3 separate regions of the Homo sapiens genome follow, and regions 1 and 3 are each linked to region 2. Evidence: fine-mapped expression QTL. A gene starts in region 2. Each other region holds a variant in brackets. All regions are shown on one strand. Distances are between the middles of the regions. Region 1 holds the start of PHOX2A (paired like homeobox 2A). Region 2 holds the start of CLPB (ClpB family mitochondrial disaggregase). Region 3 overlaps CLPB (ClpB family mitochondrial disaggregase).

Region 1 (10,678 bases), 190 kb before region 2:
GGTGGACTATGCCCCTGCTGGGCCTGCACGCTCAGCGCTCCTCCCAGGCCCCCTGGAGCTGCAGCCCCCCCGGGGACTGCCCTCGGACTATGGCCGGCCCCTCAGCTTCCCTCCACCCCGCATCCGGGAGAGCATCCAGGAAGACCTGGCAGAGGAGGTGTGTGGAGCAGGGTGGCTGTCTGTGTGTGCCTGAGTGTGCTTGCCCACAGACTGGTACCCTTTCACTCCACCATTCAGCACTCATGGTGTCCCTGCTACCCTGAACTGATCACTGGGAAGTTGGGAGACACATGTATCAGCCCAGCCCTTCCCTTCCTTTTCCCCAGAGCATGCAGCAGAATGTGACTGCAGGTGTTTCTATGGGGGGCACTCAGCTCCCCCTGACATGCCCTGTTTCCTTAGGCTCCGTGCCTGCAGGGCGGGCGGGCCAGCGGGCTGGGCGAGGCAGGCATGAGTGCCTGGCTGCGGGCCATCGGCTTGGAGCGCTATGAGGAGGGCCTGGTGCATAATGGCTGGGACGACCTGGAGTTTCTCAGGTGGGGGAGGGGCTGGCCCCGGGGGCGGAGCTGGGGCCCTCAGGATCCCCTTGCCCATCTCACTTCCCAGCCTGTTTTACTCCACAGTGACATCACCGAGGAGGACTTGGAGGAGGCTGGGGTGCAGGACCCGGCTCACAAGCGCCTCCTTCTGGACACCCTGCAGCTCAGCAAGTGATAGCGGAGGCACCACGAAGCTGTGAACTCAGAGCCCCTCCCTGCTACCAAGGCCCAGCTATGGCCCCAGGGTTGAAAAGTTATGAGGGTCAGGGCAGTATCTCTCTGCCTATTTATTGGGGTGCCTATTTATTGGGGATCTGCATTCCCCGCTGCCCAATCATTTGCAATGCCCTAATTAGGGCATCCTGCCCCTCGCCTTTTAGGCTCAGGACGGAAGGTCAGTTGCCATGGTTACCGAGGACCCTGGTTACTCTGGTGCTGTCCTGTTTTACTGGACCCCGCCTCCCAGCCCCAGGGGTGCCTGTGGGGGTCCATTTGGGTACGTCTGGGCCCCCACTTTCACCAGTTTCTGCGGCCTTCCACCGGGCCTGAACCACAGCGGAGGAGCTCCGCTAAGACCTCCCCACCCCCGCTGGGGGTGGGGGCGGGTGTCCGTCCGGAAATGAAGGAATAGCCCGAGGACCGGGCTGGGGTTTATTTAAACTGTTCTGTGTGGGTCTGGGGAGGGAGAGCACCTTAATATTATTGGGGTTGGTTGGGGTGGGGCAGGATCTCAGCCATAAAGTGCCAGTTTGCTTAGTTCTCACTGTCTCCTGGTCTGTGCTGCCCTGCTCTGGGGATGCACGGCGGCAGGGTGGGGGAGGGAGGTTCCTCGCAGGTCTCAGCCCGGGACAGGGTCTTGCAAGCAGCCTCCTGGGCAGTCGTAAGGGTTGCGGCGTGATGTCTTCAATAAATTAAGTTTTATTTGGATTGAGTAAAACTTCAATAAATTACAAGTTTTTCAAAGAAAAAGGACAACCAAAAAAATTAGGGAAAGAGAATCCCTCTGTCCCATTCCCCAGGCAGCCCCTCCACTCCTCTAACAGGTCCACCCTCTGTGCCAGACGGGCTAGGGAAGAGAGGAGACACGTGAGGGATGAATTGGCGGTGGTCATTAATTATCCCGGCGACCACCAGCCTCTGTACGGGTGGGCCCGAGGGGTGGGGCAGCGGGCTTTCCTGATCACCAGCGTAAGGGGTGACCCAGCCGCTGCAGAGCCAGGGAAGGGGGCTGTGCCGATCCTCCTTGAGGACCTTCACTTTGAGGGCACTGTTAGGGACAGGCCTCATGTGATACCGCATCCAAAGAAGGCCAAGCTAGAAGGAGCTCCGGGGTTCTCCTGGAGGAGGTCCCGGTATAAAGAACTCCGCTCTGCTGGTAGAGGGTGGGTGAGGACGAGAGTGGCCCTGACTTGGTCTCCAAAGTTGGGGAGGACACACCGAGGGGTGAGACAGTAGGGAGTGGAGACGGATGGGGACTTCCAGGCGGGTGGCCAGGATGGGAGGGGCTGTCAGGTCCTGGAGGGGCAGGGACGTCTCTGGGGGCAGGCTCGGAGCCTCCAGAGGCCGGCAGCTAGAAGAGATTGGTCTTCAGGGCGGGGCCGGGCTTCCGGTGAAAGGAGGACAGAACCCCGGAGAAGGGCCCGGGGCCGGACTCCGCCGGCTGCCAAGCCTTAAGTAGTTCGGCCGCTCCCGCGCCAGGCCCGCCGCCCCCACCGCCCGCCACACCGGCCCACAGTGCGCCCTTGAGCGGCTGTGGCCCCGGCCCAGGTCCCGGCCCGGAGCCCAGTGCGACGGGCAGCGGGCTGGGGCTCAGGCGCGGGCTGGCCAGGCCGGGCGCAGGCGGCGGCGGCAGCGAGGCGGTGCTATCGGGCGTGGGGCTGCACGTGGACTCCTTGGAATCGTCGTCCTCGGAGGAGCAGCGCGCCTCGCCCTTTTTGGCGCCCGCCGCGCCCGCCGCGCCCTTGGCGCTGGCCGCGCGCTCCTGTTTGCGGAACTTGGCCCGGCGGTTCTGGAACCAGACCTGCGGGCACAGGGGCCAGTCAGCCTGGACGAGGGTCGGAGAACGCACGGGGTCAGCCCGCGGCCGCAAGGCTCGAGTGAGATCCTGGTTCGGAAAGAACCGGGCCCGGGTTCTTACTAGTTGGAGGGGCCTTCGGCCCTCCGCACGCAGCCCGCTGCACTCCGCGCTCCACTGGCCCCTGCCTCCAGATCCCTGGGTTCTTGCCCTTGGGATCCACTCACCCGCTGACTCTGCTGCCTCCCAGCACTCTTGGTCTCCCGGAGGGGACCCTGCCTTCGTTCTCCTCACTCTAAGTTCTTCCCCCAATTCCTTCTTTTAGGAAGCTCTGGGACTTCCCTCCTGGAGTGTTCCAGGGCCGTGGAGAGCAGTTTAGGGCGCCAGTAAACCTTTTGTCTAGGGCATCCAGTCAAGGCGGGCCAACTGAACATCTGTACACGGAGTTGTACAAATAGACAACAGTCTGCTCTAGCCCGGCTCTCTTCGGCCCTGTGCCTGCCACAAACTCAGCCTCCCGGGCTCCGGGTTTTCAAAGCTGCAGCGCCGGGGTAGGGAACCCCAGGGGTGCTGACTGGCCTGCCCCCTCTCCTCCTCAGCTCGGCCCTGAGGTCCCCTGGGTCTCCCCCTCTAGCCCCTCGGCCTCCCTCCTGGCTTCTCAAGCATCACTCGGAACTTTCTGCCCTAAGAGGGAGACAGAGCGGAGGTAGCCTGGAGCTAAACAGATCGGGTCTCCCAAGGGCCTCCAAGTCCGGGCCCTGCTGCCTCCCGTAGCTGCCCAAGCACCCTGGGACCGCGCCCTGCCTTCGGGCTGCATCTGCCTGTATTCCCCTACCCCCAGGTGTTAGACATTAAGCTCCCACACCTCCTTCCATGCGCACTCTCGTACACACACGTGCATACACGCACCTGCACGCGAGCCTCAGTGAGGTCGATCTTGAGCGCCAGCTCCTCACGCGTGTAAATGTCGGGGTAGTGGGTCTCAGCGAAAACGCGCTCCAGCTCCTTGAGCTGCGCGCTGGTGAACGTGGTGCGGATGCGCCGCTGCTTGCGCTTCTCGTGCAGGCCGGATGGCTCTGGGAAGAACTTGTAGGGCACTGCGGGTGTGTGCAGGGGGGCCGGGGGGGGGGCAAAAAGGATGGGGGAGTGAGAAGCAGAGTTCAACCCGTTGTGTCCAGCTCCGGGGGAATCACACGCCTCCCCCGTCCCTGGCCTGATCCCTCGTCTTGGTCCCGGCAGCCTGGGGCCGAGCGTCCTCCCTATTACTCAATGGAGCCGGCGGGATAAAGGCGGAGGGAGATCAGGGAGACCTGAGCCCCAAGAGCGGCCAAGGGGAAAGCATAATCCAATACTCCAGCCAAGACACTCCCTCCCCCACCCCACCCCCGTCGTCGCCCTCCTCCCAAGCCCTGTTCCCTCCATCTCCCCCTGCACCCCCATTCAACCGTGCCTCCGACCCTTCCCTCCTGTCTGTCTCTCAGCCCGTCTGTCCCCTCTGTCTACCCTGGCCCTGGATGTCTGTCAGGTCTCATCAGCATTGCCAGTCTTCCCACTAACCAGTTCTGGGCCAAGGCTCTGCAACAGAGACCCTCCCACCGGCCCTCCTTTCAGCCCTACCACCAGCCTTCCCACCGGCTCTCAGCTGTATACAGATTTGGCTCCCTCCACCCATCCACCTCTCCCCTTCCCAAGCCTCATTTCTTCAATTCTGCCCCACTCCCCTGACCCCCATTCTCCCCTAGATGTCCCCCTCTCCTCTTCCTAATCTTCCTCCATTTGAATCTCTCTTCAACTTTCCATTTCTCAGCCACTCTTCTCTTTGTGCCCATTGAGAAGACTTCCTCCATCTTCTCTTTGCGCCCATTGAGAAGACTTCCTCCATCTTCTCTTTGCCCTCCTTCTTCCTCCCCAGGCACCTTCTCCATGTCCCATCTCCTCCAAAGCCAACACTGCCCCCCAACTCTCTTCCTATACCCATCCCAGTCTCCACTGCCCCATAGGTAGTGTTTCTGACAGTACTTCCCTTCCCTGTCTGTAACCCTGGTTTAAGTCTTCATATTCACCAGGGGTCTCCAATCTCATCTTTGTCCCATCCAGGCCTCCATCTCCCCTGATTCTTGTCTCCAGCACCCCATTTGTATTCTTATCTTCGTCATCTCTATTTCTAATCTTCTTTGGTCCCCATCGCCTGATACTTATCTCTATCTCCCCAACCCTGAGTCCCCATTTCTCCTAGGATTTCCAGTGCTTCCATCTCTGCTCCCATCTCTCTGTACCTTATCCCCATCTCTCTGGTCTCAAAACCCTGTATCTCTGGAGGCTGTCTCCCCTCTTCCCAATCCCTACCCTCATCTGGCTCAGGGTACCCAATCTCCCCACCCTGGGCCTCATTTCTCCAAATCCAGGTTCTCATTTCTCGTATCTCTTCCCCAAACCCCAGCCTAGGGCCCAGTCTTCTTCTTCTTCTTCTTCTTTTTTTTTTGAGACCGAGTCTCATTCTGTCACCCAGGCTGGAATGCAATGGCACAGTCTCAGCTCACTGCAACCTCTGCCTCCCAGGTTCAAGCGATTCTCCTGCCTCAGACTCCCAAGTAGCTGGGATTACAGGCGTGGGCCACCATGCCCAGCTA[AT/A]TTTTTTTTTTTTTTGTATTTTTAATGGAGATGGGGTTTCACCATGTTGGTTAGGCTGGTCTTGAACTCTTGACCTCAAGTGATCCACCCGCCTTGGCCTCCCAAAGTGCTGGGATTACAGGCATGAGCCACCGCGCCTGGCCCTTAGGCCCCAGTCTTCTACTTGGGTCCCCGGCAGTCTTCCCAGGAGGGAAGGCGATAAGATTACATAGGGCAGGCTGGGACTCTAATCAGAGGGCTGAGATGACTGAGAAGCTCAGTGAGGTTGAGGGTTTGGACAGGGACTTGGATCTAAAGTCTTGGGGATGCAGGAGCTGCTTCCGGGTTCTACAGAACTCTAGCTGGGAGAGTCTGGGGGAATGGGGAAATACAAGTGGCTTAAAAACCCGGGCCCCTTTATTGCGGGCTACGGGATCTGGTTTTGGTGGCTACAGAAGGGTTCGGTCCCAGGCAGCGTGGGTCCAAGACAGGGCAGGAGGGGCCTGATGGCCACGCGAGCTCTAGGAAGCTTCCCGTCTGGGCAGCTCAGCTGCCTGGAGAGGTCCTTGCTGGGGGTCATGCATCTCGTGGGGCAGCGGTGATGGGGTGGGGTGATAAGTGGTGATAGGGCTGGGCTGGGAGCCTTTTTCAAAGATCCAGCGCTTGTAGAGGTTTAGTGGTCAGTCTTTGCAGGTGGTGAGGGGAAGGCCTGGTAAGGGGCCCAGAGCTGGATGGGGATATATTTCCTTGACCTGAAGGGCACGAGACAGAGATTTGGCAACGAGAAAAAGGAACAGGAGAGATGAGAGGGTGAGGCTCATTCCTGCGGAGGAGAACCTCGTATTCTGGGGGTCTCTCGGGGCATTGGAGGGTCTGGCCAAGGCAGGAATGGGGGCGGCTGAGGGGGACAGTCGCATTCACTTGGCGAGCGGGCCCAGGGATTCTGCAGGAATTGGAGGGAGGGTTGGGCCGGGGCTGCGCTCACCTGCCGAGTAGGGCGCGGGCTGGTGGTCGCGTAGGGCGCCAAGTGCGCAGTTGGAGGAGCCGAGCGCGGGGCAGGGCGGCCCTGCCGCGGGGAAAGCGGGCCGCAGGGGGCTGTATTGGAAGCCGCCGGGCTGGCTGCAGGCGCCAAAGTCGCCGTAGGCGGACGCCTCCATGGCCGCCACGCACGAGTCGTACGAATTGAGGTAGGAGTAGTCCATCGGCCCGGGGGGCGGGGGCGGGGGCCGGGCCAGGCCGGGTCGGGGTCGGGGTCCGGGTGGAGGTCGGAAGGGAGGTTCGAGCGCCAGGCTCCGAGGACCCGAGGCCAGCTCTGAGCGCCCGAGAGTCCGCCCGCCCCGTCGCGGCCGCACTCAGCCCGGGTGCAACGCAAGTGCAGCCAGCCCGGCCCGCGCGCCTTTTAACGCGCAGGACCCCGCGGAGGGGGGCGGGGCGGGGCGAGCTCCGAAGGGGCGGGGCCTAGGAGGCCCAGACACCGCCCAAAGCCGCCCCGACCCCCACCCCGAAGGGTCCCCGCCGCCGTCTTAGGGCTCAGAGGTGTGGAGCTGGGATGCGCGGGACCCTATCCCCGGAGTCCCTATCCTGCCCCAATCCGGACCAGACCTTCGGTCTCTACACAGCGTCCGAGGCCAGAGGGTCCCGACCCTTTTCCCGGGCCTCCCCACCTGCGGCCCCGCGGAAGGGAGGGGAGGCAGGCCTGGCGGCGCTCGTGTGAAGAAGTTAATTCAATTCGCTCTGATAACCGAGTTATTCCGATCTGGCCCCTCAGCCCCGCCCCCAGCGAGGTCCCATCCCGGCGGAGACTGCGGAGGCGGCCCAGGAAGGGGGATGGAGACCGGGAAGAGACGGAGCCTGGGATGGGGACAGGGAAGGGACGTGGATAGACAGAGGAAACAGAGACCGGGAGAGAAAGGGGCAGAAACAGTGATGGAGACAGGGACAAGAGATACAGGTACACAGAGGGAGACAAGGACGGAACATACACAGCGAAAGACAGGATGGAGCGGGGACAGGGCAGAGACAGGAGATGAGGGTAAGAGAGAGACAGGATGGAGCGGGGACAGGGCAGAGACAGGAGATGAGGTTAAGAGAGAGACAAGAGGAGACAGGGAGACAGGGGGACGAGAAAGAGAGTGAGGGAGGCATGGAGACAGAAGGGGTCGGGATGAGACATGGACGGCAACCAGGACTGCGGTGGAGAGCAAGGGAGGGATGAGACAAAACAGAGGCAGGAATCGTGAGACAGACACATATGCCCAGGGACAGTCTGAGAGAGACAGGGCCAGGGACAGCCACAAGCGCGGGAGCAGAGGCTGAGAGCGGAGAGAAAACGCCTCCGGGGAGCTTAGACACGAGGGCTGGAGCGCAGAGGGGCCCAGGGATGATGCTGGAGGCTCTGGGGTGCGGCCTCCACGGGGCTGCGGAGAGGGAGGGTCGTGGGAGCCAGGTCCCTCTACCCTGACTTGTCCCGAGGCCCACACGACCTTGCACCTTCAGGGCCCGCCTGCCTCTCCCCCCGTTCCCTCAGCTCCATCTGCAGTATGCGACCCTCTCCTGTGACCTTGGGCTCAGGATGCGATGGATGTCAGAAAGGGAACGTACCCCGTGACCTCTTTATTGTTCTTCAGTCTCTTACCCCTGTTCTCCAGGGCCCCCCGCTTTTTTTCTCCAGGGAAACCACCTAGACTCAGTCTGCACCTGGCCCAGACATCCCTGCACAGATTCAGTCACCAGCTCCCTCGTGCTGTGGGACAGCGGGACACATTCAGAATCCTTACCAAGAGAAGGGAACAGATAACTTTTCCGTCGCTCCTGAGCTGGGTTGGGCAGCTCGTCCACTCAACCCCCAGCCTCTTCCACCGATCTTGGCAGGTCTTGTAGATGGGGAGTCCTAGACCCATGGAGAAGCCGCGGGAAGGGCGTGTCTTTGTTTCCAGCTGAAGTCCTTGGGGGTTGATAGAAGGACTCCTGGAATTCTCCCCAAGTTTGTCAGGACAGAGGGGAGTGCGCCTCTCCTCAGGTAATCCTTCCCCCATCATCCGTTCTGGGCTTCCCAGGAGGACTCTCTATCCCCAATCTCCGGAACCACTCCATGCCAGGGGATTTCTTTGAGGTTTCTCAAATTACCTCTTGTCAAATGTTTTTATTGTGGCAAAATACACATAACATAAAATTTACCATCTTAGCCACTTTGAGCTATAGTTCTGTGGTAGTAAATACATTCATATTTATGTATTAATACATCCATCTCCATAACTCTTTGAATCCTGTAAAATCAAAACTCTACCCGTTAAACAACACCTTCCATTTCCCCATCCTACCTGCAAACCGCCATTCCTCTTTCTGTCCCTATGATTTTGTGTTTTTTTTTTTCAGACAGTCTTTCACTCTGTCACTCAGGCTGGAGTACAGCAACGAGATCATGGTGCAGTCTTGCATTCCTTGGCTCAGGCGATCCTCCCGCCTCAGCGTCCTGAGTAGCTGGGACTACACGTGCACACCACCATGCCTAGCTAATTTTTAAATCTTCTGTAGAGATGGGGGTCTCACTATGTTGCCCAGGCTGGTCTCTGTTATTTTGACCAGGGACCTCGTATAAGTGGAATCATACAGTATTTGTCTGTTTACTTACTTATTTTTGAGATACTCTTACTCTGTCACCCAGGCTGCAGTGCAGAGGTGGGATCATAGCTCACTGCTGCCTCAACCTTCTGGGCTCAAGCGATCCTCCCACCTCAGCCTCCCAGAGTATTGGAATTACAGGTGTGAGCCTCCACACTCAGCCCAGTATTTGTCTTTTTGGCATAACTCCTTTTATATATCCCATTTCCTTATCCATCCATCCATCCGTGGACATTCGGGTTGCTTCCACATTTTAGCTGTTGTGAATAATGCTGCTATGAACATGGGTGTACACATATCTGCCTAACATATTTGTATCTGCTTTCAATTCTTTTCAATATATACCCAGAAGTGGAATTCCTGGATCATACAGTAATTCTCTTTTTGTTTTTCAAGGAACTGCCACAATGTTTTCCACAGAGGCTTTTCCATTTTACATTCTCACCAGCAATGCATCCGTATTCCAATTTTGACACATCCTTGCCAACACTTGCTATTTTCTGTTTTTCTCAAATGACTTTTTAGGTCTAAACTTGTAGAGATTGAGACCTGACAGCTCAACTGCTTCAAAAAGTTATCCCTCCTGGTGTGTGAGGTGCACCTCTCCCCCTCAATATATACTCTACAGGGAGTCCAAGGGATCTCAGAATTGGGAAATCAGATGGGATCACTGCTCTCAGACCCTCCCATGGCTCTCCATTGCCCTCATGATCAAGTCCAAGCTCTTGCTGGCACGCCACGTCCTCAGTGCTAGCGCTCCAGCCTGCCTCCCCCTGTTCTTGGCTTTCTTTGCAGCCATCACACACTAATCTTTTGGTTCAGAGCTGTTCTCTCTGGCTGGAATGCCCATTTCATTCCCTGCCCTCCCACACAAAACAAACAAAACCGAACAAACCCAAGCCTGGTTGACTCCTGTTTATCCATTGGGTCTCAATTTGGATATCATTGCTTCCTGGAAGCCTTCCCTGATGCTGCTAGACTAGGTTGGGCATCCCTGCCATGTCCCATAGTAGTACTTCCTCTCTTTTGGTCACTCAAATGACCTTGCTGAAGTGTTTGCAATACAGTGCAAGGTCTTAGGGCAGAACTATGTCATCTTGTTTCTCACTCACTCCCCAGCCCTACCGTGGTGCCTAGCCCATCACTCTGCATGTCATAGGTCCTCTCTTATCTGTTTGTCAAATGAATGGATTAGGCTAATCTGAAATCTTCGTGTTGGAGAATCCTGCCCTTGCTTCCAGGGAAGAAATTCTCATCCCCTAACTCCACTCTGCACTCTCTGAAGAGGGATCATCCTGCCCTCTTCATTTCCTCTCTCTCCAGGGACAGGAAACTTCTTCCCTCACGAGTCAACCTCTGCCTGGAAGAAAGTCCTTCCTCATCTGAGGAATTTGCAGGTGGCCATACCCCTTCCCCAGTGAAGCTGACCAGCACTAGGAGCAACTGAAGCTTGCATGCAGGGACAAGCAGAGATATAAGGGGAGGCAGAGTCCCAGTGCTGCCTAAGGCCCTGGCTCCAGCTGTCTCAGAGACCATGATCTAGCCCTGTCATTTTTTTTTCTTTTTTTCTTTTTTTTTTTTTCTTTTTGAGACAGAGTCTCCCACTGTTGCCTAGGCTGGAGAGCAGTGGCGCAATCTCGGCTCACTGCAACCCCTGCCTCCTGGGTTCAAGTGATTCTCCTGCCTCAGTCTCCCGAGTAGCTGGGATTACAGGCGCTGCCACCATGACCAACTAATTTTTGTGTTTTTAGTACAGACGGGGTTTCACCATGTTGGCCAGGCTGGTCTTGAACTCCTGGCCTTAAGTGGTCCACCCACATCAGCCTCCCAAAGTGCTGGGATTACAGGCATGAGCCACCATGCCTGGCTTAAGCCCTGCCATTTCTACAGTTTG
Region 2 (10,678 bases):
CCTCCTGGCTTCTAAAAGGGTTCAGTTTCTACCACACTGCACTGAGGGTCAAAACTCTAAGTCAGGGGACAGGGTAGCTGGCAAGTCAGTTCCAGCAGGAACTGGTCACGGCTTTGACCATTATCTATTTTGGTAAATAGACCCTGGTATTCTTGCTGGAGTTCATAGGCCATAAAGTCCAGTTGGGAACCCCCAGGAACTTCTTAGGCAAGACCTCACCAAATACACTGGACTCAGAACATTCCCTGCTCATGAACCTTCCATAACTCTCCACTGCCTACAGAAGAAATTCCAACACCCTCACCTACCCCACCCCTGACTGGCATCCAGGCCCCACTCCATCTGCTCTCATCTAATTCCAAAGACCTTATCCTCCAACCAAGCTGGCTGCTCTGCTGGCCCCTGCACACACCATGGTGCCCCGAAACTGTTATTTCCATTCCCTGAAGCCTTTGCATGGAATATAATCCAACTCTCACACATTTACTGAGCACCTACTAAGTTCCAGACACTGTGGTGGGCAAATGATGTCTAGGTATTCGGGAAAGTTGCTAGTATAACCTGAAAAAACAAAAGAGAAGATACATTTCCTGCTCTCATGGGGCTCAAAAGATCACTCCCCTTTCCGTTTCTACTTCATCCTTCAGAACTCAAGTTCAAATTTCCCATCCTCTGGGGTCTCCAATACTCCAGAAAGGCTTTCCTGACCCTACTGGCCCTCTGATCCCCCAACGACACATAGCACCACTCACCAGCCCTACATTCCAACTGCCTGCACTGTCCCCTTGACTGATTTTGTGTTAAGTTAGGACTTCCCACACACCTAGCCTAAAACTAGACACACAGTGGGTACCCCCAAAAATGCTGGAAGTTATAGGATTACAACATGCCTAAGCTCGATGCCCTTAGTGTCTATTTCAAAACCCTCATTTTGTAGATGAGGAAACAGAGGACCCGTGAGGAGAAGCAAAAGTCCAAATTCACAATGAGAGTTAGACACAGAACCAAAACAAGATCCCCAGTGTTGTCTCTCCCAGACCAAAGTCCTTCCTTTACAATTGGCCACATCAAACGAATCAAAGTCAAGGCACTCCCTACTCCCCAACTCTTGCTCCAAATTCTCAGAGCTTGGGGTGCATGGAATCTATGGACACCATGCCTCAGTCTTTCTTCTTGAGGAACAACTAAGAACCTGAATGGCTGGACTCACATAGGTCATCAGTCTGGCTCTCTGTCCACTCTCTCAGCTGCTGCTTAGCTCCCCGGATCCAAATGAGATGCTAATCGGGATCAGCCAGTCCCCCAGCAGTTGCCCTTGGGCCTCCAGGAATCCACCTTCCTTCTCCTGCCAACTATCCCACATGGCAAGATCACCTCACAGCATGTGAGACCAGACACAGCAAAATCCTGAGACTGACAGACTCAGGCCGCTGAACTCCAAAAAGAGTCAAAATAACAGTACTGTAAAAATGTTGGGAAACTATCCTTCACTATATAAATAAAGAAATTGGTCAGACGCGGTGGCTCACGCCTGTAATCCCAGTACTTTGGGAGGCCAAGGCGGGTGGATCAGGAGGTCAAGAGATCGAGACCATCCTGACCAACAACTAAAAATACAAAAATTAGCTGGGTGTGGTGGCCCGCACCTGTAGTCCCAGCTACTTGGGAGGCTAAGGCAGGAGAATAGCTTGAACCCGGGAGGCGGAGGTTGCAGTGGGCCGAGATTGCGCCACTGCACTCCAGCTTGGCGACAGAGCAAGACTCCATCTCAGAAATAAATAAATAAATAAATAAATAAATAAATAAATAAATAAATAAATAAATTGAGGTCAAGCTGGCATTAGAACCGAGTCAGGTTGTTCCTGACTCTGGCACCTTTGGTGGCGGGGGGTAGGGGGGAGCGGTTTGGCAACTTCTCTAAACCATCTGGCGGTTGCCCTTAAAACACCCCATAATTTCCGTTTCCTGGAGATCTCAGGAAAGAGGAATTGGACCAGGCAGAATATGAGAAACATAAGGGGACCATGCTATAATATTAGATGTTTAGTCCAATATCCCCATTGTACAGATGGATAAAATGATGCCCAGAGAGGGGAAGCGGATCTATGGTACGAGATTATACAACTCCGAGGTGATGAGGTCTCTAGGGCAACACCCTGCCCCTGTAACCAGATGATGTCTGAGTCCCTCCAAGACTTAGGCTCTAAGGATCTAAACCTATAAGTACCTCCCACCCTCCTAAGATACGAAGTTAGGACAATCTTCCCGCCTCTCCCTTCCTCAAACCCAGATCTCATAATCACCCTTGTTGGACGGACTCTTGCTGTAGCAATGAACCACCAGCGCTGCGGCCAGGGCGCACATGCCCAGTCCGGCCCTGCTGGGGACCCCGTTCCAGCTGTCCTGTCCTGGGAGTGTTTCTTCGGGACCAGGAAGGCGTCCCCAAGTGGCAGCCGCGAGGCATTTGGTATCGAAGCGTCCTCCCTGGCGCCCCCCGGTGGCTGCCCCACGTCCGGAGAACAAGGCCGGCGATGTTCCAGGGCGCCCCCCGGTGGCTACCCTCAGCCACTGCGGCTCCCCGAGACTCCCAGTAGTCACATTCCGGCCGGAAGCACCTCCATGGCCCCGGAGCGTTGGGGACCTGAGCAGCCGGAGGAGTAGCCGTGGCGCCAGTGCTTTTCTCCTCAACACCAGGGACCCCAGCATCTTGACAGCTGCTTCGATAACCCCGTGGTGCCGGCCCCTGTGCTGACCACGTCCAACATGGCTGCCGCGGCGCGTTCGAAGACGCCGCGAACAGGGTGGAGTTGCGCACTACCTCACGGGAGAGGTAGTCCACAGCCCTAAGCCTTTCCCCAGCTGGAGAATAAATAAACTACGTTTCCCAGAAGGCTGTGGGATTGCGTCACAATGACTGCGGGATTATAGAAGCCCGGGGCATATTGGGAAATAGAGTTCGGGTGAAGGGGCGTGGCGATTAGAGTTAAAGATTAGAATCCCAAGACTTCTTTCCTAGTTTAGTTGAAGCACACGACACACTTTTTTTTTTTTTTTTTTTTTGAGACGGAGTCTCGCTCTGTCTCACAGGCCGGAGTGCCGTGGCGCGATCTCGGCTCACTGCAACCTTCGTCTCCTGTGTTCAAGCAATTCTCCTACCTCAGTCTCCCGAGTAGCTGGGATTACAGGCGCCCGCCACCATGCCCAGCTAATTTTTGTATTTTTAGTGGAAACGGGGTTTCACCACGTTGGCCAGGCTGGTCTCTAACTCCTGACCTCAGGCGATCCGCCCGCCTCGGCCTCCCAAAATGCTGGGGTTACAAGCGTGAGCCACCGCGCCCGGCCCACAATTTTTGACTGGTGTAAATTACCCAAGAATCTTCAGCAGAGGCATATTATGAAACTTATGCTTATTTAGTTTAGCCTATCTCTTTTTTCAGCCTGGGCGGCCTTTCAAAAAGATGTTTAGGGTAACTACTGCACCTGAGATAGGAATACATTTTATTTGAAGAGTTGACTTCCGGTCTTTTTTTTTTTTTTTTTTTTGAGACAGAATCTCACTCTGCCGCCCAAACTGGAGTGCAGTGGCGCCATCTCGGCTCACTGCAACCTCCGTCTCCCTGGTCCAAGCGATTCTCCCACCTCAGCCTACCGAGTAGCTGGGATTACAGGCACGCACCACCACGCTTGGCTAATTTTTGTATTTTTAGTAGTAGAGACGGGGTTTCACCATGTTGGCCAGGCTGGTCTCCAACTCCTGACCTCAAGCGACCCACCTGCCTCAGCCTCCCTAAGTACTGGGATTACTGGCGTGAGCCACTGCGCCTGGCCCTGATTGTGTTATTTTTAAAGGGCTTTCAAGTGGGTCATCTCATCTGATCCTCATGGCAGCTGTGTGTGAGAAGCTGGGCAAGAACTGTTATTCCCGTCTACAGTGAAGGGAATTGAGGCTCAAAGGTGAAAAGATTTGCCAGTAAATCACCTGGAGTAAAGTAATGCTCAGGTCTTCTGATTTTGAGCATATAGTTTCCATTAACACCTGCACTCCCATCCCGCCCCCTCTTTTCCAAACTGAACCCATAGGTAGGCAAAGGAGGAAGTTCTTCTTTGTGCCAGTTCTGTTTCTTCCAAGTCTTGTACGTCTGCTCAGACTTCACATGATCAGAGTCTTCCCTGACCATTCTGGTTAAAATAGTAATCCTACGCACCCCATCCTAATTTTCCTTCACAGCATTTATCACCATCTGACATACTACATTTTTATTGTCTTTCTCCACTACAGCATGAGCCCCATGAGACAAGGACTTTGTTTTTTCACTTTTATATCACTAGCACTCAGAACAATGTCTGGAACAAAAGAGGCACTCAGTTTTTTTATTTTTATGTATTTATTTATTTATTGAAGCAGAGTCTTGCTCTGTCGCCCAGGCTGCAGTGCAGTGGCACGATCTCAGCTCACTGCAAGCTCAGCCTCCTGTGTTCACGCCATTCTTCTGCCTCAGCCTCCCGAGTAGCTGGGACTACAGGCTCCCGCCACCATGCTCGGCTAATTTTTTTGTATTTTTAGTAGAGACGGGGTTTCACTGTATTAGTCAGGATGGTCTCGATCTCCTGACCTCGTGATCCACCTGCCTCGGCCTCCTAAAGTGCTGGGATTACAGGTGTGAGCCACCGCGCCCGGCCTGAGGCACTCAAATATTTTTTTCAGTGAATGGATTACTCTCACCTTATTAGTGTTGGAGAGTACTTGAGCTTTGGCATTCAGGCAGACGTGGATTTTAATTTTGACTCTTGCATTTATATGGGTGACCTTGGACAAACTCCCTTTACCTCTCTGGTAGTTAATTACTCATTGTTGAAGATATCAATTCCTGCCTTCAAGATGATTGCTTGTATTAAATAAGATAATATGTAGAAAGCCCCTAACACTGTCCCTGGCTCACAGTAGGTCTTCAAGAAATGGTAGCTATCATTGTATATTCTCTGCTCTGTGTATTCTACACTTCCTCCAGGCAAAGATGGAACTTCTCATTTCCACATCCGTTAGTAAGACAGGAATGAATGAGCGACTTTTTTGGTTTTTTTTGAGACAGGGTCACGCTCTGTTACACAGGCTGGAGTACAGTTGTTACTGCAACCTGAAACCTCCTGGGCTCAAGGGATCATCCCACCACCTCAGCCTCCTGAGTAGCTGGGACCACAGCTGGCACCACTACACCTAGCTAATTTTTTGTTATTATTATTATTATTATTATTTGGGTAGAGACTAGGTCTCGCTATGATGCCCAAGCTGGTCTGAACTCCTGGGCTCAAGCAGTCCTCCTGCCTCAGCCTCCTAAAGTGCTGGGATTACAGGCGTGAGCCACTGCGCCTGGCTTTAATAACTTTTTTTTTTTTTTGAGATGGAGTTTTGCTCTTGTTGCCCAGGCTGGAGTGCAATGGCGCGATCTTGACTCACCGCAACCTCCGCCTCCCAGGTTCAAGCGCTTTTCTTGCCTCAGCCTCCCGAGTAGCTAGGATTACAGGCATGTGTCACCACACCTGGCTAATTTTTTTTGTATTTTTAGTAGAGACGGGGTTTTACATGTTGGTCAGGCTGGTCTCAAACTCCCAACCTCAGATGATCCACCTGCCTTGGCCTCCCAGAGTGCTGGGATTACAGGCGTGAGCCACCGTGCCCAGCCTTGAATAACTATTTTTAAATCATTTTTAAAGCACTCAATAATGAAAGCATTTTGACCTTTCTGTTTTGAGAGATTTTCAGCACATATTATTTTGTTAACCACCCCATTCACTATAGCAACTTCACCTTCCCTGTATTCTTGAAACATTTCTGTCTCCCAACTTAGGGTGGTCACAGCAGGAAGAGCAGTCTCCGAAAGCTCCCATTACCAGATGCAGAGTTCAAACCCTCTCACTGCAGACACATCCCAGGGCCCTTCAGTTTACTTAGCAATGCATAATTTTCAAAGCACTTCCCCATTGATTTTCTTATTTTATTTTCACAGATACCATCTGCGAGGGGTTCAAGGAAGGGTTTAATTACTATCAGTATTTGGTAGGGATACTGAAAAGCTTAAATTATCAATCTCTGAGTGGGGGATGTAGTGAGGAAGTATGGAAACACCCATTAGGGTCGTGTGTGCTTGCTCACGTGCCTGTAATCCCAACACTTGGGGCAGGAGTTTGAGACCAGCCTGGGCAACATGGTGAGATCACAGTCTCTGCAAAAAATAAAAAATTAGCCAGGCATGGGGGTGTACACCTGTAGTTCTAGCTACTCAGGAGGCTGTGGCAGGAGGATCCCCACACTACTGCACTTCAGTCTAGGCAACAGAGTGAGACCCTGTCTCCAAAAAAAAGAAAAATAAACTAAAATTAAAACAAACAAAAAAACCCCACCCATTAGAATCAGCTGGGACTCAGAGTGAATTCTGTATGGTCAATAACCAATCCAGGGCCAGGCACAGTGGCTAATGCCTATAATCCCAGCACTTTGGGAGGCCGAGTTGGAAGGATCATTTGAGGTCAGGAGTTCGAGACCAGCCTGGCTAACATGGTGAAACCCCGTCTCTACTAAAGATCCAAAAAATTAGCTGGGCGTGGTGGCACACGCCTGTAATCCCAGCTACTCAGGAGGCTGAGGCAGGAGAATTACTTGAACCCAGGAGGCGGAGGTTGCAGTGAGCCAAGATCGCGCCATTGCACTCCAGCCTGGGCGACGGGGCGACTCCGTCTCAAAAAACAAACAAACACACAAAAAACTCTTAGGTCACATTTTAACAGATTTTCAACGCAGGATGGCTTCCTTTTGGTCTGCTCAGAAAGCAAAAATTTATATCAGGTTCCAATGACCCCACCTTGGCCCTAAGCTTCTAACTGTTGGGTTGGGAGAGAGAGAACTCCAGTTTTAGTTTGTAGGAAGGTGACTGGGGGATATCTGAATGGGGTTTAGGAGGAGACAGAAAGTGAAGAATCAATGCAGTTGCTGTGGTCAGCTGCCTCTGGCATGGAGTTGGAGGCCATTTGGTGCTACACATTCTATAGGTTTCTGAGAAAAACTTTTCCAGAAAAAGAAAACAAAACAACAACACACACACACATTTTTAAACAAATAAGTAAATAGATAGTAGCTGGGCTTTTCACTGTTGGAGAAAGAAGTTATAAATAGGGAAAAAAAGAAAGCTAAAATGAACCTTGTGGTATTGAATTGGAATCAGATGTATCAGCATAAACTCATGGCTTTAATTTTATTTTTACTTTATTTATTTTTGAGACGGAGTCTTGCTCTGTCATCCAGGCTGGAATGCAGTGGCGCGATCTTGGTCACTGCAGCCTCCGTCTCCCAGGTTCAAGTGATTCTCCTGCCTCAGCCTCCTGAGTAGCTGGGATTACAGCAATGTACCACCGCCCAGCTAACTTTTGTATTTTTAGTAGAGACAGGGTTTCGCCATGTTGGCCAGACTGGTCTCGAACCAGCCTGATTGGTCTCAATTGGTTATTGACCATATGGTTTTGCCACGTTGGCCAGGCTGGTCACAAACTCCTGACCTCAAATGATCTGCCTGTCTCAGCCTCCCAAAGTGCTAGGATTACAGGTTAGAGCCACCATGCCCAGCTGTAAAACTCATGGTTTTTAAAAATAGATACAGACAGATCAATACAGAAATATAAATATGTAAGTATGTATGGGTTCGTGTATTACATATATTACCTAGCCTCTGGGAGGGTCTAGAAGCAATTACACCCTAAAAATTGAACACACCTAACACCCAGACATAAACAGCATTCTCCAATAACCCAGAAACCAGTTACCCTTGGAGAATGGTTGTTTTCAGGACTGGGCAGAGAAAATCCAAAATGAGTCAACAACATCGTATGTGCCAGGAAGTTAGGAAAGGCTCAAAACCAGATGCAGGCTTGTGAAAAGAACACAGGAGCCAGTGTGAAGGAGTTCATAATGACCTAAGTAGGAACAATTTAACTGAAAAGTAATGACCATATGGGGTTTTGATCCACAGAGTAAAACAAATATGATATAAATAATCAAATAAATAAATAGATAAATAGGGGAGGAATGAGGGAAGAGGCAGCTTTCTTTCTTTCTTTTTTTTTGAGACGGAGTCTCGCTCTGTTGCCCAGGCTGGAGTGCAGTGGCGCGATCTCGGCTCACTGAAAGCTCTGCCTCCCGGGTTCACACCATTCTCCTGCCTCAGCCTCCAGCTGGGACTACAGGCGCCCGCCACCATGCCCGGCTAATTTTTTTTTTTGTTGTATTTTTAGTAGAGACGGGGTTTCACTGTGTTAGCCAGGATGGTCTCGATCTCCTGACCTTGTCATCTGCCCGCCTCGGCCTCCCAAAGTGCTGGGATTATAGGCGTGAACCACCACGCCTGGCCCGAGGCAGCTCTTTCTTACAGTGGAAGTTCAATCAATAAATGTAGAAGAAAGAGAGAAATAGAGAATTACCACTAGGCAGACACTGGAGTAATACAAATTTCAGGCTGGGCACAGTGACTCATGTAGTGACTAATGCCTGTAATCCCAGCACTTTGTGAGGCCAAGGCAGTAGGAGGATCACTCGAGGCCAGGAGTTTGAGACCAGCCTGGGCGACAAAGTGAGACCCTGTCTATACAAAAATATAAAATAAAAAAATTAGCAGAGCAGGGTGGCACACACCTGTTGTCCCAGCTACTTGGGAGGCCGAGGCGGAAGGATTGCTTGAGGCGAGGAGGTCAAGGCTGCAGCAAGCCTTCATCGCACCACAGTGCTCCAGCCTGGGTGACAGAGCAAGACCCTGTCTCTAAAAACATAAATAAAAATAAACATTTCAGGCAAGATCCATAGATGATACTAAAATTAGTGGGTGACAAGGAGGAGAAACAGAATTTATATAGTCTCAAAAGTACTTCCTGCAGCCGGGCACGGTGGCTCACGCCTGTAATCCCAGCACTTTGGGAGGCTGAGGCAGGTGGATCACAAGGTCAGGAGTTCAAGACCAGCCTGGCCAAGATGGTAAAACCCTGTCTCTACTAAAAATACAAAAATTAGCCAGGCGTGCTGGCAGGCGCCTGTAATCCCAGCTACTCGGAAGGCTGAGGCAGGAGAATCACTTGAACCCGGGGGGTGGAGGTTGCAGTGAGCCGAGATTGCGCCACTGCACTCCAGCCTGGGCAACAGAGTGAGACTTCCTCTCAAAAAAAAAAGTACTTCCTGCAAGATAATTATGAACTACAAAAACTTTACAGTGGGGAAAACCTGGCAGACACCAATTTAACTACATGATCAAAGGTAAATATCACCAGTAATAAGACATATACACAACAGACAAAATGAATCCCTTGATATGATGCACTGGGAAGAACACATCGTTTTTGTTCATTCTCATCAAGCATATATAACCTCATTCCAAACATGAGAAAACATCAGACAAACACATATTGAGGGATATTCTACAGATAACTGATTTATATTATTATTTGTATTAGTTTTCTATTGCTGCAAAACAAAGCACCATAAACTGAGCAGCTTAAAACAATTGCCATCTAATATCTCACAGTTTCTATGGGTCTGGAGTCTAGCATATTCTAACTATGCTCTGCTCTGGGTCTGAAATCAAGGTGTCGGCCAGCTGCATTCACATCTGGAGGCTCAATTAGGGAAAGGTAGTTTTTCTTTTTGTTTTTTGAGATGGAGTTTCACTCTTGTTGTCCAGGCTGGAGTGCAGTGGTGCAATCTGAGCTCACTGCAACCTCCACCTCCCAGGTTCAAATGATTCTGCTACCTCAGCTTCCCAAGTAGCTGGGATTACAGGTGCACGCCACCACACCCAGCTAATGTTTTTGTATTTTTAGTAGAGACAGGGTTTCACCATGTTGGACAGGTTGGTCTCGAACTTCTGACCTCAGGTGATCCACCCATCTTGGCCTCCCACAGTGCTGGGATTACAGGCATAAGCCACCATGCCCACCAGGCAAAGGTAGTTTTTCAAGCTGCCTTACACTGTTGGTTGAAATCATTTCCTAGCAGCTGTGGGACTGAGGCTGTATTGCTAGCCAGCAGCAGCTGAGAACCTCTCAGCTCCTGGAAAAAACTCTTGGGTCTTTGCCATGTAACCACTTCCTTAGATTCTCTCATACTTGCAAGCAAGCTTCTCTGACTTCAGGAAGGGCCTGGTTATTTTAAAGGGCTCACCTGATTAGATCAGGCCCACCCAGATAATCTCTCTTTTGATAAGTCAAAGTGAACCGATAAGTAATGTTATCACAGGAGTGATATCCCATCACATTCACAGGTTCTGCCTGTACTCAAGAGTGTATACAAGGTATGTACATTCAGCGGTGGAAACCTTAGGGATCATCTTAGAATTCTGCCTGTCACAGTACTCTGCAAAAGTGTCAAGGTCACGAAAGATAAGGAAAGACTGAGAAGCTGTTACAGACTGGGGATTGAGAAGAAATAAATACTAAATGCACTGTGTAATCATGGATAGGACCAGGGAACAGAAAAGGGACATTAGTGGGAAAATTGATGAATTTCAAATAAATTCTAAGGTTTAGTTAATGATATTGTATAAATGTTAATTTCCTGTTCTTGATCATTGTATTATGGTTATATAAGATGTTCACATTGGGGAAGTGGAGTGGAGGATATAAGAGAACTCTTTGGGCTGTGCATGGC
Region 3 (10,678 bases), 150 kb before region 2:
AATCCCAGCAGTGTAGGAGGCCAAGGAAAGAGGATAGCTGGAGCCCAGGAATTTGAGACCAGCCTGGGCAACATAGTGATACCTCATCTCTACAAATAATTAAAAATATTTGCTGAGCATGGTGGTACATGTTTGTGGTCCTAGCTACTTGGGAGGCTGAAGTGGGAGGATCGCTTAAGCCCAGGTGGTTGAGATGGCAGTGAGCTGTGATCATGCCACTGCACTCCAGCCTAGGCCACAGAGACCTCGTCTTAAAAAATAATAATATAATGTTCTTTTCTCTTGTAAATTTTTAAAAAATGTCTTTAAAAAATTGAAGTGTATAGTGTCTGATGTTGGTATAAGCATTCCTGCTCTCTTTTGGTTACTATTTGCGTGGAATATGTTTTTTCCATCCTTTCACTTTCAATCTATTTGTCTCTTTGGAGCTAAAGTGAGACTCTGGTAGACAGCATATTGTTGGATTATGTTATTAAAATCAATTCTGACAATCTTTGCCTTTTGATTGGAGAGTTTAACCCATTAACATTTAAAGTTGACTGCGAGTGGTGGTTCATGCCTGCAATCCCAACACTTTGGGAAGTTGAGGCAGGTGGATCACCTGAGGTCATGGGTTTGAGCCCAGCCTGGCCAACATGGTGAAACCCCATCTCTACTAAAAATACAAAAATTACTAACTCTGCATCTTCTCTAAGACATTATGATTACTTTCTAAATTTCCCAGTATATGCAATTGCTTTTGAATATCCTAGTCTTAAATGTCTGGCTACCAACAGGAAGTAAAAGAGAAAAATGAAGAGGGAGGGAAGGGTGCAAGCACATTAATCCTAGACAGCACTTCAGCCAGAGGGGCTTGCTACAATGGGAGGAGGTATAAGAATAATGGTCTCTGCCTCTTTTTATGCCTGTGATCAGAAGTAGCAATCAGAGCACAGATCCTAAGTATTTGAAAGACAGGGTCCTTTTGCCCCTCCTGGCTCCTGGAAGCTGCATTCCAGCTGTTCTAGGAACACGTGCACAGCTGCCTGCCATGGGGCTGGGAGGTGGGGGATGGGTAGTTGTTACTGTGCTAAGAGTTGAAATTGAACAAAATTAACCACAATTTATCATCTAAGCCTTCCCTGGGAAGTCGCAGAACTCCAATAGACTCCAGAGCTCCAAAATAGTTACATCAGACAAATTCTGCCACTGTAATTGTCTGGGTGGGGAGACAGATTCCTGATGCTTCCTACTCTGGCATCTTCCCAGAATCCTCTGGGTATTTACCTTTTAAAAAATTATTTTACTCTTTTTTTTTGTGTGTGTGGGGGGTGTCTAAGGTGGGGAGCATACTATATAGTGCTTAATCTGCCATACTTTTTTCTCTTTTTTCCTTCCTTTTCCTCGCTTTGCCCTAGTATTTTATGTAGATTGTGTTGGTTGACTTCTCAATTTTGCCCACAGGTTAAAATATATCTAAATAGGGTTATGATAGAACCAGAGGAAGAATGCTCATCACACAGAGATCCTTGATATGGAACAAGTTGTAGCAACTGATGAGACTTTGCTATGTTTATCTTTGTAAGAGTAAATTGCTCTGTGCAAGGGATAGGTGGCATTACGTAGCGTGAAGTTTTTTTTGAAAATACAGGTTTGGGAAGATCTATATTGTTGTTGGGTTAAGTCTGAAGATTCTGAGAATATTTGGAAGAGAGAGATTATAATGATGGGCCCTGAGATTTAAGTGGACTTGGAGAAAGAGGGATCAGATGGGCAATAAGAAGGTTGGGGTTAATGGACTAGAAGTATCAATAAGGTCACAGAATTACACACAGAATGTACTCCAGTTCATATAAGTGAACTGGAAGATGAAAGATAATTGGCTAGAGAGGGATAGGGGCTTCGGAGGAAGTTTAATTACTTGTGATGAAATTTAGACTGTGACCATAACATAGGTGATTTAGGTGGGCAGGGGCAGAAAAAAGACCACTAAATGTGAGGAGAGCAGGGCTTTAGGTCATTCATGGAAGGTTGAAGCCACCAAGAATGATGGCATGTGCTGGGGAAGAGAGAAAGTGACACAGGTACTAAAATCTTCCCTGTGACACAGTGATTGGGAGATCAGTAGGCAGGACAATTAGAGAAAGGCTGGTATAGTCGAACTGATGAATTCAAAAGAGCTGAGAGGAAGGATGAGAACTAATTGAGGAGGAGCAGTGGAGGCTCACTTCTGGGTCTAACAATGAAAGCAGCCTCTGCCTAAGAGGGCTACAGGTAAGCAGTCTTAGGGGACAGCCAGAGTAAGCTGTGTCTTTAGGGGACAGTTAAGATGAAGAAGTGAAGCAAATATTCCAAATACAAGGTGCATATAGAAAAGAATCTACCGATTTTAGAAAGGAAGTGCTGGAGGACACAGTGGAAAGGCTGGAGAGGGAAGCAGTATGTGATGATGTGGTGGTAGATGACCACTGAGGTTAGGGTCAGACTTCTTGGGATTACTATAACGAATCTGTGAGGGATGGTATTAGACTTGAAGACTCTTAAGAGGATGGTGGGCTAATGGTTTCAGGATTGTGGTTGAGGCTATATTCCTTATCTCTGCAACTGATCATGACTCTGGAGGGTCACACTGGTGACTGCCCTCCCTGACCATTCCATATTCCCCTTGTCCTGTGTCACTGCCTTAGACCACTATGGTTTGTTGTCCAGTGGATGACCCAAATCTTCCTCCTTTAAGAATATGAGTCCTTATTACTCCTAGTATCTAATATCTAAGTCAATTAGGACCACAACACTAGAAAAAATTGTAGAAATGCATAAAAGACGAAAATTAATCTGAGAAAATCACTCAGAATGAAGCCTCTTTTTCAAATATACCTACTATTTTTTCTTACTGCCCTTTCTTGCTTTATGTTTTTTAGTCTTCTCTCCATGTCTGAACATTTTAAGATTTTTTTTTTTTTTTTTGAGGCGGAGTCTCGTTCTGTCACCCAGGCTGGAGTGCAGTGGTGTGATCTCAGCTCACTGCAACCTCTGCCTCCTGGTTCAAGCAATTCTCCTGCCTCAGTCTCCCCAGTAGGTGGGATTATAGGCACATGCCACCACACCCAGCTAATTTTTGTATTTTTAGTAGAGATAAGGTTTCACCATGTTGGCCAGGCTGACTTGAACTCCTGACCTCAGGTGATCTGCCTGCCTTGGCCTCCCAAAGTGCTGGGATTACAGGCATGAGCCACTGTACATGGCTGGGATTTCCCATTCTTGGTTTCAAGTCTAGTTGTGTATTAAACTTTCTTGTCTTATTACATATATTAAATATTTCTGTTTGAGGTGGAAGAGAGTTTGCCTGAAATTACTCTCTGTTGTATATTGGTCAGAAGTCATCCCAAATCATTCTACACAATGCAAACAAAGGGTCTTTTAAAACACAAATCTGGTCATTTCATTCCCTTAGCATGGCATTCAGGGCACTTTGAAATCAGGAAACTTGCCTCTCTAGCTTCATTTTCCACCAATTTCCTCTCTTCTCCACACTCATACACAGCTACTATACTCCAGCCACAGACAGTAACCCTTCTCTTTCCTTTCTCTCATAATTGTATTTAGGGTGTGTGTTAATAATAAATTTACATTTTCCCTAATTTTTGCATACTGTCAAGATGGGATTGCAAAAGTAGTAATGACTATTTCCTGAGAGGCTAGACCCAGAAAACAGTAGCTCCATGTAGCATCGCCTCTGGACATAGTAGTGCAGTATGACCTTAACATTATTTAATTAAAAGTGCTGTCAATTAGATTTGTATTAAATTATTTATTAGGTTTACATTAAGTTATATATTAAGAAATGTATATTTTAGTATTAAATCATCCTTTCTAAAACTTGATGTTTTTTCACTTGTCAGGTCTTATTTTTATGCCCTTCAATATGGTTTTCTTGTTAAATTTATTAAGTATAATTTTGAACAGGTAATACATTAATATGGTTCAAAGCTTACTAAAAAGTATTTAAAATAACATAGCAGTGTTCCCCTTCCATTGCTGTCCCTGAATTGCCCAGTTCTGCTCCCTTCCAGAAATAGGTTATGTGTAGAAGAGCAAATATATATATACCTATTTGTTGCAATTGTAAATGGAATGTTTTTCTTTTGATACTGTTTCTAGTTGATTATTGCTAGAATACAGAAAAAACAATTGATTTTTGTACAGTTATCTTTTATTCAGACACTTATCCATGCTAATAGGCTTCTACTATAGCCTTTTTTTTTTTTTTGGAGATAGGCTGGAGTGCAGTGGCACGATCTCATCTCACAGCAACCTCCACCTCCTGAGCTCCAGTTATATTCCCACCTCAGCCTCCCAAGTAGCTGAGACCACAGGTGGATGCCACCACAACCAGCTAATTTTTTGCAGAGATGGGGTTTCACCATGTTGCTCAGGCTGGTCTTGAACTCCTGGGCTCAAGCAGTCCACCTGCCTTGACCCCTCAGTGTTCTGTTGAGATTACAGGTGTGAGATACTGCACCTGTTTTTTTTTTTTTTTTTTTTTTTAAGAGATAGGGTGTCACTCTGCCACCCAGCCTGGAGTGCAGTGGCATGATCATAGCTCACTGTAACCTCATACTCCTAGACTCAAGGAATCTTCCACCTCAGCCTCGAGTAGCTGGGTATACAGGCATGCACTACCATGCCTGGCCTGAAATAACTTTATACTTAAAAGTTGCAAAAACAATACAAAGAATTCATGTACATCATTCCCTCAGATTTCCCAAATGTTAACATCTTTTTTTTGTTTGTTTTTGAGACAGTCTCACTCTGTCATCCAGGCTGGAGTGCAGTGGTGTGATGTAGGCTCACTACAACCTCTGCCTCCAGGTTCAAGGGATTCCTGTGCCTCAGCCTCCCAAATAGCTGGAATTACCGGCATGTGCCACTATGTCCGGCTAATTTTTGTACTTTAATAAAGAGGGGTTTCACCATGTTGTCCAGGCTGGTCTCGAACTCCAGACCTAGGTGATCCACCTGCCTGGGCCTCCCAAAGTGTTGGAATTACAGGTGTGAGCCACCATGCCTTGCCAACACCTTACTTTTTGCTTTATCATTCCGTGTGTGTGTGTGTGTGTGTGTGTGTGTGTGTAGTTATCTGAAATACTGGCAAACCAAATTAGAGGTTTACCTTTAACCTCTAAATACTTACATTTTCTGAAAACAAGGACGTTCTCTTCTGTAATCATAGTATAATTATCAAAATGAGAAAATTTAACAACACTAGCACTCTCTAGACATTTAAATAACATTTAAGTTCTTGATGTAATAAATTAATAAATTTCCTGACACTGAGCCTTGCATTGCTAAAATAAACCTTATGTAATCAGAGTGTGCAATTCAACTTGATTTTATTTGGGATTTTTGCATCTATGGCCATAGGTGAGATTAGGCTATAGCATTCTTTCTGGCACTTTATCAGGTTTGAGTACAATAATAGTTAAAACTCATCTATTTTGGGGGTTGAGTGATGGCTATAGGAGTGTGTTTACTTTGTAATCATTCACTGAGCTGCATACTTGTGATTTGTACAATTTCCCATATATTTTTCAATTAAAAAGTTTAATTAAAAACAATTTTTTATTTTTGGGACATGGTCTCGCTCTGTCACCCAGGCTGGAGTGCAGCAGCACAGTCTTGGCTCACTGCAACCTCTGCCTCCTGGGCTTAAACCATCTTCCCCACCTCAGCCTCCCAAGTAGCTGTTGACTACAGGCAAGCACCATCATGCCTGGCTAATTTTGGTATTTTTAGTAGAGGTGGGGTCTTGCCATGTTGCCCAGGCTGGTCTCAGACTCCGGGGCTCAAGTGATCTGCCTGCCTTGGCCTTCCAAAGTGCTAGGATTACAGGTGTGGGCCACCACCATGCCTGGCCATCAATCTTTTACAAGGATAAAATTTTATTTATTTTTCACCATCTTATGGTGCTCAAAAAGGATAAAATTTTAACCACCTTTCCAGTTTCTTCTTGGGTAACCAACTGGCCTATTCAAACTATTTCTAGGATCAGTGTTTGCTGGGAAATTATCCATTTCCTCTGATTTCAAATTTGTTGCCATAGAGTTCTATTCTTCTTCTCAATTCCTCAATATATATGGTTATGTCTAATTTCTCATGCCTAATTTTGTTAATTTTTTTGGCTCCTTTCCCCTTTTATCAGGCTCAGGAGGTTTTATCTATTTTATTGGTGCTTTCAAAGAATTTTTTAATTTATTCTTTTTCTTTTTCCTACCTTGTTAAGTTTAGCTTTTATCTTTATTGGTCCATTTTCTATTTTTTATGGTTTAAGTGTGTTTCTTTCCTAAATTTCTTTCTTGTTTTTCTTCTTTCACTATATTGAGGAATTTCCCTAAATTTTAAAATCACTACACACCTTTGAGTTTTTCTTTTTGAACAATAAACATGTTACACTTTCATTTCCAAGTCTGGTCTCATGTATTCTAGGATCCTCAATAAGGAATTTGGGGCCGGGTACAGTCGTTGACGCTTGTAATCTCAGCACTCTGGGAGGCCAAGGTGGGTGGATCACTTGAGACCAGGAGTTTGAGACTAGCCTGGCAAACATGGTGAAACCCCGTCTTTACTAAAAATACAAAAAAAATTAGCTGGGTATGGTGGCATATGCCTGTAGTCCCAGCTACTGAGGAGGCTGAGGCATGAGACCTGCTTGAACTGGAGGTGGAGGTTGCAGTGAGCCAAGATTGCACCACCGCACTCCAGCCTGGGCGACAGAGCAAGACTCTGTCTCAAAAAACAAAACAAAACAAAAGAAATCTGGGTCTCACCTTGCTGCATTGTCTCAGAGCTCAAATCCTGGCCACAGCAACATGGGACAAATAAAAATATGCTGAGCAAACAAACAATACTTTTCTGTTCCAGAGCCCACTGAGAAGATCTGCACTTGCTGCAGGTCCCATCCACTCACCCAAGTATAATAATAAAGGAACATCTGTCATATGCCTGCACTGTGCCAGGTTCTGTGAATGGCTGAACAGCTTGGCATCTGCCCTCTTAGAACTTACATTCTAGTGATGAAGACACAGAACAAGTAGGACAAGTGAGCTGAGCCTGGGATGCTATGGAAGTAAAAGATATGGGTCCAACACCACCTAGGAGTTCTGGCAGAGAATCTCTGGAAGAAGTAATTCTTTTTTTGTTTGTTTTTGTTGGAGACGGAGGCTGGCTCTGTCACCAGGCTGGAGTGCAGTGGCACAATTTCGGCTCACTGCAACCTCCACCTCCCGGGTTCAAGCGATTCTCCTGCCTCAGCCTCCCGAGTAGCTGAGACTACAGGCGCCCGCCACCACGCCTGGCTAATTTTTGTATTTTTAGTAGAGATGGGGTTTCACCATGTTGGTCAGGATGGTCTCAATCTCTTGATCTCGTGATCTGCCCCTACATGGCCTCCAGAGTGTTGGGATTACAGGCATGAGCCACCACGCCCGGCCAGAAGTGATTCTTAATTAGGTTCCTTAGAATCTAAGGTTCTACCCCTGTCTCCTTATCCTATTCTCAGGAAGGTGGCCATTGGCTTTTCTTGTATAAAAGTTATCTGATTTTAAGTTATATGCCTAGTATTCCTGGCCACAGTTAACTGAACCAACGGACTGACAGCCGGGCATAAGACCTCTATCTAGTAGGAATACTGCACACAGGCTGGTTACTAGCTGACTTAACTAGAGCCTCTATGGGAAGTCTAAACATCAAATAGAAAGGAGCAGAAACAGAGATAGCAGGAGAAAAAGCAGAAAAAGAATAGTAAGGTTATAAAAATGGCAGTCGCAAACCCTATGGTATTGAATTAAAACCGTATCTAAACTCATGATTTTTATTTATTTTTAAAAATATGAAACGGAGTCTTGCTCTGTCACTCAGGCTGCAGTGCAGTGGTACAATCACA[G/A]TTCACTACAGCCTCAACCTTCTGAACTCAAGCGATCCTCCTGCCTCAGCCTCCTACGTAGCTAGGATTACAGGAATGCACCACCATGCCTGGCTAATTTTTTATTTTTTAAACGTTTGGAGGATGAGGTCTTGCTATGATGCGCAGGCTGGTCTTGAACTCCTGGGCTCAAGTGATCCTCCCACTTTGGCCTCCCAAAGTCCTGGGATACAGGCACGAGCCACCATACCTGGCTCACGGTTTTTAATAACATACAGATGGATAGAATAATAAATTCAGGTGCTTGTATTTGCATGTTTTAACATATATACATATATGTTTTCTAGCTCTGTCTGCTGAGCAGGCCTACAAGCAATGACACTCCGCCAATGATACTCTAGCCAGGAGTATATATTCTGTCCAGATCTTGGTTTCCAGTGGCATCAAGAAACAACTTGGTTTCTAAGTTCCTTTTTTCTGGAATAAAAGGAACTGGGAGCTTCTTAGAGAATGACTGATGCCAGGGCTGAGATAGGGAAAATGTGAGGAAGCCTGAAACATCTTGTGGTGCCAGAAAATGCTTAAAAAGTGACAGGGGCAATGTCGAAACAACACAGTGCCAACTTCAATGAGTTCTCACTGGCCAAATCTGAGCCAATTTGAGCAACCAAATAAACTGTTAGCATTAGATTGTAGCCTGTAGAATAAAACAGATATCCACTCATTCATACTGATATAAATTATCAAATAAATAAATGGGGAAAAGGGACAGCTCTTCCTTATAGTAGAATACCAATTAATAAATACAGGTAAAATAATGAAACAAAGTCACCATTAGGCAAGCATAACATTAATACCTGTTATAAGCAAGAATCATTGATGATGGAAATGAAAATCAGTAGGCAAAATTTTAAGAATAAGACATTCACATAGCTTCAAAGTGGAAGATTCTTGTTAATTTCAAAGGGAAAATTCCTAATTTTACAGTGGAGAAACCTGGCACACACCACCTTAGCCATGTGATCAAAGTTACCACCACCTAGTCTAGGTGTGGTGGCTCATGCCTGTAATCTCAGCACTTTGGGAGGCCGAGGTGGGTGGATCACCTGAGGTCAGGAGTTCAAGACCAGCCTGGCCAACATGGCGAAAACCTGTCTCTACTAAAAATACAAAAATTAGCTGGGTGTGGTGGTGGGCACCTGCAATCCCAGCTACTCAGGAGGCTGAGGCAGGAGAATCACTTTGAACCCAGGAGGCAGAGGTTGCAGTGAGCCGAGATTGCGCCACTGCACTCCATCCTGGGTGACAGAGCGGGACTCCGTCTCAAAAAAAAAAAAAAAACCAAAACAAAAAGTTACCACCACCCTCCGCTAGGAGGCACTAAGAATAGCACAGTATCACTTCTGTGGTTGTCTTGGCAAAAATGCAGATCCTCAATCATATCATGTAAAAACATTAAACAAACTAAAACTGGGGAATATTCTATAAAATAACTGGCCTGGACTCTTCCAAAGTGTCAAGGTCATGAAAGATAAAGACCAAGAAACTGTCACAGGCTGACAGAGATGAAGGAAACACCACAACAAAATGCAATATGGGACCCTGGACCAGACAAAGGACATCATCGGGAAAACTGGCAAAATTTGAATGTCCGTAGATTAGTTAGTAGTAGTTTATCAATGTTAACTTCCTGGTTTTCTTTTTTTGAGACGGAGTCTCACTCTGTCGCCCAGGCTGGAGTGCAGTGGCGTGATTTCAGCTCACTGCAACCTCCGCCTCCTGGGCTCAAGTGATTCTCCTGCCTCAGCCTCCCAAGTAGCTGGGATTACAGGTGGGCACCAGCGGGCCTGGCTAATTTTTGTATTTTTAGTACAGACAGGGTTTCACCATGTTGGCCAGGCTGGTCTCGAACTCCTGACCTCAGGTAATCTGCCTGCCTCAGCCTCCCAAAGTGCTGGAATTACAGGCATGAGCCACCACACCCGGCAATTTCCTGGTTTTGATAAACTACAGTATGGCTTTGTAGGATGTAATCATTGGGAGATGCTAGATGAAAGATACATGGGAATTTTCTACTATTTCTGCAACTTTCTCTAAGTCTAAAATTATTTCAAAACAAAAAGTAAAAAACAATGAAAAGCAGGCCGGGTCCAGTGGCTCATGCCTGTAATCCCAGCACTTTGGGAGGCCGAGGCAGGCAGATCACAAGGTCAGGAGATTGAGACCATCCTGGCTAACATGGTGAAACCCTGTCTCTACTAAAAATACAAAAAGGTAGCCGGGCGTGGTGGTGGGCACCTGTAGTCCCAGCTACTCGGGAGGCTGAGGCAGGAGAATGGCGTGAACCTGGGAGGCAGGGCTTGCAGTGAGCCGAGATCGCGCCACTGCACTCCAGCTTGGGGGACAGAGTGAGACTCTGTCTCAAAAAAAAAAAAAAAAAAAAAAAGGCAGTCAGTGAGGTAGGGAGCAGCAGCCCCTGAGGGGTAGACAGTGATCCAAGCATCTGCTGGAGCTCACACCCTGGATTCTGACTGCCTCATACCCACCATACTGTTAGGACATGCTTCCATTACCCAAGGGACTTTGATTCCTGGCCCCATTCTCTGCTTCCTGAAAGACTAGCTAACACTACGCGAGGGTTCCATGAAGGGCCTGTGGGGGAAGGTGGGTGGACTGCTTATCAGCAGTGGCTACTGTAGATGGTGCCCAAGGATGCACCAGGCCTTACTGTGCCTGGCTAAGGTGGGCTTGAAACATTGGCTGGTCTGTGAAATGCCC

Evidence for each region.
Region 1: its variant is fine-mapped to the expression of CLPB in whole blood (INTERVAL, PIP 0.95).
Region 3: its variant is fine-mapped to the expression of CLPB in whole blood (TOPMed, PIP 0.96).

The regions. Positions count from the first base shown.
Region 1 is chr11:72,237,640-72,248,317 of GRCh38, forward strand. PHOX2A (paired like homeobox 2A) reads right to left here and starts at 6,537. Exons shown (of 3, transcript NM_005169.4): 1 at 6,149-6,537; 2 at 3,463-3,650; 3 at 1,438-2,559. The coding sequence starts at 6,365. The coding sequence ends at 2,110. It overlaps INPPL1 (inositol polyphosphate phosphatase like 1), which reads left to right. Exons shown (of 28, transcript NM_001567.4): 26 at 1-157; 27 at 403-536; 28 at 624-1,508. The coding sequence ends at 714. RefSeq lists a silencer at 2,240-2,409. The variant AT/A (reference allele first, on the strand shown) is at 5,184.
Region 2 is chr11:72,431,769-72,442,446 of GRCh38, forward strand. It overlaps CLPB (ClpB family mitochondrial disaggregase), which reads right to left and starts at 2,763. Exons shown (of 16, transcript NM_001258392.3): 1 at 2,304-2,763. The coding sequence starts at 2,706. RefSeq lists enhancers at 2,385-2,844, 2,908-3,714 and a silencer at 5,126-5,175.
Region 3 is chr11:72,281,720-72,292,397 of GRCh38, forward strand. It overlaps CLPB (ClpB family mitochondrial disaggregase), which reads right to left. Exons shown (of 16, transcript NM_001258392.3): 16 at 3,776-10,678. Among named protein-coding and RNA genes, the nearest start is that of PHOX2A, 43 kb to the left of the region's middle. The variant G/A (reference allele first, on the strand shown) is at 7,922.